2 linked regions of the Homo sapiens genome follow. The protein of the gene in region 1 purifies or fractionates together with the protein of each later gene. This does not show direct contact. Each region holds a gene or a part of one and is shown in the gene's direction. Other genes may lie near its edges.

Region 1 (3,500 bases):
GTTGCTAACACCTGGCCCATCTGTGAGCCTTTGGATCCACTCCCTGTGTTGCAGGTTGTGCCTTATTTTTTATTTTTATTTTTTGAGATGGAGTCTTGCTCCGTCACCCAGGCTGCAGTGCAATGGTGTGGTCTCAGCTCACTGCAACTCTGCCTCCCGGGTTCAAGTCATTCTCCTGCCTCAGCCTCCCGAGTAGCTGGGATTACAGGCACCCGCCACCATGCCCCGCTATTTTTGTATTTTTAGTAGAGACAGGGTTTCGCCATGTTGGCCAGGCTGGTCTTGAACTCCTGGTCTCATGATCTGCCCGTCTTGGCCTCCCAAAGTGCTGGGATTACAAGTGTGAGCCACCATGCCCAGCCAGTTGTGCCATTTTTTTTAAGCAGCGGAGTTGAAAAGTGGGTGGTGCAGTTTGAAGCTTTCTTCTAGGGCAGGTGTTGTCCAGTGTCTATAGCCACACCACTCACATTCACTGTACCATTCCTACTAGTCACTGCAGGTCTTGTTAATTATGGTAATTCTCAACCAGGACGTGGGATGGGTGGAGAGGAGGGAGCAGTATACTACTAAAGTCCAGCCCAAGGACCTAAGAGAACCAGCAGTATCAGCATTGCCTGGGAACTTGCTGGAAATGCTGAATCTAGGGCCTCACCCCAGACTCCCTGAATGGGCATCTATGGTGGAATAACATCCCCAGGTGATTTGTATTTGCATTAATGTTTGAGAAACTCAGATTCAGATGGTGGTGAGCCAACTGCTTCACTGCTTGTTTTAATGTTTTCAATCATCATGTGCCTACCTTTATTTCTGCCTGAATCTTCCTCTTTATATATCACCATCTAGGTAGTCGACACTCCGGACATAAATCTAATAAATTATAATTTATTTATTCATCATCAAACATTTATTGAATTCCTCCAGGCCAGCCACTGTGCTGGTGTCTAGGAATACAAGGTTCCCTCTTCTGAAGAGGTCTCTAGTGGGAGAGACAGACACTTAAAGAGACAACTGTGTGGTATAATAAATGCGATGATAAATCTCTGAAAAAAGGGCACTATATGAGCAAAAGAAGAGATTCATTAACCTAGACCAGAGATCTGGAAAGACTTTCTGACATACAAGAGTTAGGTAAAGAAATCAAGGGAGGAAGAGCATTCCAGGCAGGGAAACAGGGAAGGAAGGAGAGAGCGAGCGAGCATGGGGCTTCTGAAATTTAGGCATGATCTTTCTCTCTCTTTATATATAAGCTCCAGATTATATTTATTACTGCTGTGTATCTCTTCTTTGATATATCTATACACATCTTAAATTTAAAAAGACCTAAACAGAACTTTTGATTCCCTCCTTAACCTGTTCCTTTCTGTCTTCTCATGTTAGTAAGTGGCATCACCAACCAGCCATTTTTGCACAAACCTGTATTTAGTCATGATCACAATATTCCTTTCTCTGTTCCTGACTTCCGATCATTTGCAAGTCCAGTTGCCTTTACCTCCAAAATGTATCCAATACCTGTCCAAATGTCTTCATCTTTAATGTTGCCACACTGAAAGTGTTGCCAAGCCACATTGTTATGCTCAACTTCTCCAATACTTCCCTTAGATTCACTGCTTGCATTCTTGCTCTCCTATAATTTATTCTCCACACACCAGCCAAAGTGATATTATAATATTGTTAACCAAAACATACTATTCTCCCATTTAAAACCTCCACTGGCCTCCCATTGAGTTAAAATGAAATTTAGACTCCTCACCTTCAACTATCAAATTCTACACGCTTTGACTCCTGCCTTCCTCTTGGTCACTATGCCTTCTCCTTTCCCTTGGTCACTATGCCTCAGCCACAGAGACTTTTTTTCTGCTCATTGAACATGCCTAGCTTGTTTCCATCTAGTGTCTTTGCGCTTAATGTTCCTTCTGTATGGAACACGGGTCTCCCTGATATTTACAGTGAAGGTGATTCATTTTCTCCATGGAAAAACCTTCCCTAATAACCAACCAGTTTAGCTCTTTTCCCACCCAGCCACTTGCTATCATAAGGGCTTCCTAGCACTTAGCACTATCTTAAATGACCTGATGTACCGTTTCTTGCTCATTGTCTGTCTCCTGCATCAGCATGCAGGCTTGATGAGTGCGAAGATCTCTGTTGTTGCTCACTGTTGGATCACCAGGGTCTAGAATGGCCAGGCCCACAGTAGGTATTCAGTTTGCCCTCCTTTCAGCTCCTCTCTGTCCTTGCATGATTTCGCATGCACTCAGAATTCCTTCTTCCTTCCATCTGGATGTTGTAAATGCTAACTCACAACCTACTCCAGGAGTCCTTTTTCATCTCTGTCTCAGCAATGGGATTCCAGTTGAAACTGACCCAATAGTCCCACAGACAGGTTTTGTTTTTGTTTTTGTTTTAAATAAACATAGAAATTGACCCTTTTGGTCTTAAAGCTTGAAACTTAACATTGTTTTATCTGAGTTTCTTCCTCAGAAAAGAACCACTAGGCCTTCCAAAAAGTGTCAAAGAATTGAAACTCACCAGATGATTGCATTCAGACAATGAGCCAGGCCCCTCCATTGACCATGATTGCTTCCTTATCCCTCCCGAATTCTGGTTTTCCCATACATAGTTTCAATTCTTCCCTGCTATATAAACCCCTACTTTTAGTTGGTCAAGGAGATGGATTTGAGACTGATCTCTCATCTCCTTGGCTACAGCACCCAATTAAATCCTTCTTCCCTGGCAATAATCATTGTCTCAGTGATTGGCTTTCTGTGCTGTGAGCACCTAGACCAAACCCCTGGTGTTTTGGTAACACAGCTCAGCTCAGCTTCATCCTTGAACACACTCATATGATTCTATGTGTTACCTCAACACCAGCTGGTCCGTGTGTTGAGGGCTGGGCAAATATTATAAATTAAGAAATACTTTCTGATTTATCTTAGTCTTCTGAATTATTAACCTTGTTTTTCAGTACTCTAGCATAAATGAATTGCTTCTCTTTCATTCTAGAAATCCTTCCTATTTGACAAACGGCCACTCAGTCCTGCGCTTAATGCTCTTAAGCAAGAGGAATATTCCCGGAGTCTCCTGAAACAAATGGATAACAGACAGGAAAACGAAATAAAGCAAAGACAATACAGAGAGTTGATGGACCGCCTGGAACAAGTGCAACTCACAGAGGAGTGAGTCCAGCTACACACGCTCTGACAAATGGATTTGGAATTTTCATGTGAAGTTACTTTTCATGTAGGATTGAATCAGCATTGGTAGTTTCATTAGCACACTGTAACCAACTGAGCAAACTAACCCAGTTAGCAGCCAGTACTGAAATGGGAAAAGTTCCCTCGTCCCCCTCGCAGGGCATGCAGTGGGGGTGTGGCTTGCTTCTTCAGTGCCCTGCTGCTCAAACCTCTAGGAGAGCATACAGATGGGCAGGCTGTGGGGCTCTGGCCACACGGCAGTATCTAGGGGTGAATGTTTACAGCTCCTGAAGCCCCAGTGGGCATGTG
Region 2 (4,127 bases), on another chromosome or scaffold:
TTCACTTCCCCAGGTACCCAGCCCCTGCCCCCAGCACCTGGGTGCTCCCTGGTCCAGAACAGGCTGCAGACTCTGAGAGGCACAAAAACAAGTGGGGAAGGGGGAGACAGAGAAAAGAAGACAGGCTGGGCACAGTGGCTCACGCCCATAATCCCAGCACTTTAGGAGGCCAAGGCAGGAGGATCACTTGAGCCCAGAAATTTGAGACCAGCCTAGGCAACACAGTGAGACTCCCATCTCTACAAAAAATGAAGAAAATTAGCCAGGCATGGTGGTGTGCACCTGTAGTCCCAGCTACTTGGGAGGCTGAGGTGCAAGGATTGCTCGAGCCTGGGAAGGTTGGGGCTGCAGTGAGCTATGATCGCACTACTGCATTCCAGCCTGGGCGACCCTGTCTCAAAAACAAAAACAAAAGAGAGATGAAGAGAGAAAGGAGGAAGGACCCAAAGAAGGGGCCAGAAGCAGAGAGAGGCCAGGCACAGTGGCTCACGCCTGTAATCCCAACACTTTGGGAGGCCAAGGCAGGAGGGTCGCTTGAGTCCAGGAGTTCCAGACCAGCCTGGGCAACCTAGTGAGACCCTATCTCTGTTTTTTTTTAATTAAATATAAAAAATACAACACTCCCACTCCATAGCAAGACCCCATTTCTACAAAAAATACAAAAATTAGCCAGGCATGGTAGTGTGCACCTGTAATCCCAGCTACTCAGAAGGCAGAGGTGGGAGGATAGCTTGAGCCCAGGCTACAGTGAGCTGTTTTCCCCACCGTACTCCAGCCTGGGTGAAAAGTGAGACCCTGTCTCAAAAAGAAACAAATATATAAATAAAATAAAGAAACACAGAGAGAGGGAGGATAGAGACCCCAGGAGGCAGGAGGACAGAGACCCAGAGGAGGGAGAGACTCTGCTGAGATAAGGGGACAGAGATGGGGAGTAGCAGGAAGGTGGGGACAAAGACCCAGAGAGGAGGAACAAGAGACCCAGGGCAGGAAATGGGAGACACAGCTGGATGCAGAGATGGGAGAGCTTAGCAGGCCATGAGGTCAGAGTGTCTGTGAGGTCAGCTGCTGTCCAGGGTCAGCCCTGAGGTCCCCATGCCCAGAGGTGGGTTCCAGTAGATCAGGGGTCCCTTTAGATCCCCCAGCGCCTGAGACATGGAGACCTGGGAGGGACTGCCCCATGAGTCCTTGGTGCCCACAAATTCCAAGGCCCCTCAGGTACCAGAGCATGTGTCCCAGTGGAGCAGGTGAGGGAGACAGGGACAGAGAGAGAGACAGAAAGCCACCTTACATGAAGCGGGAGTGGGTGGAGCCCCACCCCTGGAACTTCCTCTTTTGGGGTTCTTCCTTTCTCTCTCAGCTCTCCGTCTCTCTTTCTCTCTCAGCCTCTTTCTTTCTCCCTGTCTCCCCCACTGTCAGCACCTCTTCTGTGTGGTGAGTGGACCGCTTACCCCACTAGGTGAAGATGTCAGCCCAGGAGAGCTGCCTCAGCCTCATCAAGTACTTCCTCTTCGTTTTCAACCTCTTCTTCTTCGTGAGTTGCCTCATGGCTACCCAGCCGGGGCCCAGCCCCTGCCGCTAACCCAGCCCTCATCTTCCCCTGTGGCCCACCCCCGTATCCGCATCTCCTCTCCCCAGGTCCTCGGCAGCCTGATCTTCTGCTTCGGCATCTGGATCCTCATTGACAAGACCAGCTTCGTGTCCTTTGTGGGTGAGGGGGGCTGGGGCAGGTGGGAGGGCCTCCCCCAACCCAAGCAACTTCCTGGGGTCTCCCTTGTCTCAGGGAGACCTACGGTGCCCTACTCTGCAGGCAGGCTACAGGCTCCCATCCACTGCTCACCGGAGGCTTCTTGGAGCCTGAGTCTTCTTCCGGCAAATGGGGTTGTGCATACAAACAACAATGATCATGAGAGCCATTTCTCAAGCACTTCCTATCTGTCGGGACTTGTGGCTGGTCAGATGCCCCCACAAACCTTCCCCTCGCTTGAGGTTCAGAGAGGGGAAGCCCCTTGATGGATGTCATACAGCAAGGACGTAAAAGAGCCAAAATAACATTAATAATAGGAAAATAATAATGAAGTATGACCCTAAATAATAATGAAATATAACCCTAAACGCTCATATTTAAGAAGTCTTTGCCCTGTGTTGAGGACTGGGTTGAACACATGTCCTCATGTGTCTCTCAAAATGACCCTAGGGGCCGGGCGCGGTGGCTCACACCTGTAATTCCAGCACTTTGGGAAGCCGAGGCAGGTGGATCACTTGAGGTCAGGAGTTCGAGAATAGCCTGGCCAACATGGTGAAACCCTGTCTCTACTCAAAAATACAAAACGTTAGCCAGGCATGGTGGCACATGCCTGTAGTCGCAGCTACTAGGGAGGCTGAGGCAGGAGAATCACTTGAACCTGGGAGGCAGAGGTTGCAGTGAGCCGAGATCACATCACTGCACTCCAGCCTGGGGGACAGAGCGAGGCTCCAACTCAAAAAAAAACCCTAAGAAATAGATATCATCTCCTATGCCTCAGGGAGGTTTAAGGAGCCAAGCCAATGTCACAGAACAAGTGATAGGGCTGAAACTACTGGGGACGAGGAGGAGCTGAAGGAGGAAGGAGAGGGTAAGAGGAAGAGAGACAGAGATCCAGGGACGGGAAACAGGCCCAGAAAGAAGAGAAAGTTTCAGAAGGAAACAGGGACTCAGGGTGGGGCAGGGACAGAGTCCCAGAGAGAGGGGCACCAAGATACTGCTCCCCACTTGGGTGGCTGCCTAGGTGGGAAATGGGGCTGCCTGGAGCTGTGCCACACAGCTCATCATCACTCCCCTCACCTCTCCCAGGCTTGGCCTTCGTGCCTCTGCAGATCTGGTCCAAAGTCCTGGCCATCTCAGGAATCTTCACCATGGGCATCGCCCTCCTGGGTTGTGTGGGGGCCCTCAAGGAGCTCCGCTGCCTCCTGGGCCTGGTGAGTGCACCATCCCTCTCCGTCCCTAGGAACACTCCTATCCCCACCCTCAAAAATGGCCTGGGCCGGGGTTGCAGGGGTGGTCAGCCTGATCTCTCCACTCTGCTCCCCAGTATTTTGGGATGCTGCTGCTCCTGTTTGCCACACAGATCACCCTGGGAATCCTCATCTCCACTCAGCGGGCCCAGGTGAGCTTCCTGCAGTGGCCACCACCCACCCCCAGCAGGGAGGAGAGGGAAGGGAGTGGTGGGAGAGGGTGGAGAGAGACCGAAACAAGGGCAGACAGGGGCTAACCTAGATAAAGAGAAATAAGAGGCTGGGCCTGGTGGCTCACGCCTGTAATCCCATAATCCCAGCACTTTGGGAGGCTGAGGTGGGAGTCCAGGAGTTTGAGACCAGCCTGGGCAACATAGTGAGACCCCATCTATATTTAAAAAAAAAATCCGGGTGTGATGGTGTGCACCTGGGGTCCCAGCTACTTGGGAGGTCGAGGTGGGAGGATCACTTGAGCCAGGGAGTTTGAGGCTACAGTGAGCCATGCACTCAGCCTGGGTGACAGAGTGAGACCCTGTCTCAAAAAATAAATTAATAGAAAGACACACCGACCTGGACCAAGGGAGACAGGCATAAACAGCTCCAAAGGGAAACACACGGGAAAAAGAGAGAACAAGAGAAAGAAATAGACGCCCTGAAAGAAGAGACAGAGACTTATGAGCCGTAGAAATAGTGGAAGAAACAGAAAGACAGACCTGAAGTACACAGAGCTAGCCATTCAGTAAGGATTTGAGACTGGCCCAGAGATGCACAGGGCCCGCCTGAGGCTGGCACAGCCTGAGAGGGGGAGGGGTGGGGCGGGGAAGATAAGGCCCAGCCTCACTGGTGGCCTCTCAGCTGGAGCGAAGCTTGCGGGACGTCGTAGAGAAAACCATCCAAAAGTACGGCACCAACCCCGAGGAGACCGCGGCCGAGGAGAGCTGGGACTATGTGCAGTTCCAGGTAAGCCCCCCTCCTCCAGTTCCCTCCCGGACTGACCCGCCTCAGCCCTGTGCTTGGAGGAGACTCCACCCCAACGTGGGCCCGACCCCCAGCTCTACGATCCTAACACACCCCAATCCCTCCCAGGCCCGACGCTCCCCACTCCCCAGATGACACAACTGTCCCCGGCGTCGCCT

The links. The genes of interacting proteins can lie anywhere in the genome.
Region 2: the proteins of CCDC81 (region 1) and CD37 purify together in Homo sapiens (co-immunoprecipitation; one study listed by IntAct). This does not show direct contact.

What each region holds. Positions count from the first base shown.
Region 1 is NC_000011.10:86,409,387-86,412,886, forward strand, and holds part of CCDC81 (coiled-coil domain-containing protein 81), read left to right. Parts: intron 1-3,000; coding exon 3,001-3,173; intron 3,174-3,500.
Region 2 is NC_000019.10:49,334,079-49,338,205, forward strand, and holds the start of CD37 (leukocyte antigen CD37), read left to right. Parts: upstream 1-1,327; 5' UTR 1,328-1,462; coding exon 1,463-1,531; intron 1,532-1,635; coding exon 1,636-1,708; intron 1,709-2,830; coding exon 2,831-2,955; intron 2,956-3,068; coding exon 3,069-3,143; intron 3,144-3,846; coding exon 3,847-3,951; intron 3,952-4,127. UniProt on the Homo sapiens protein: Structural component of specialized membrane microdomains known as tetraspanin-enriched microdomains (TERMs), which act as platforms for receptor clustering and signaling.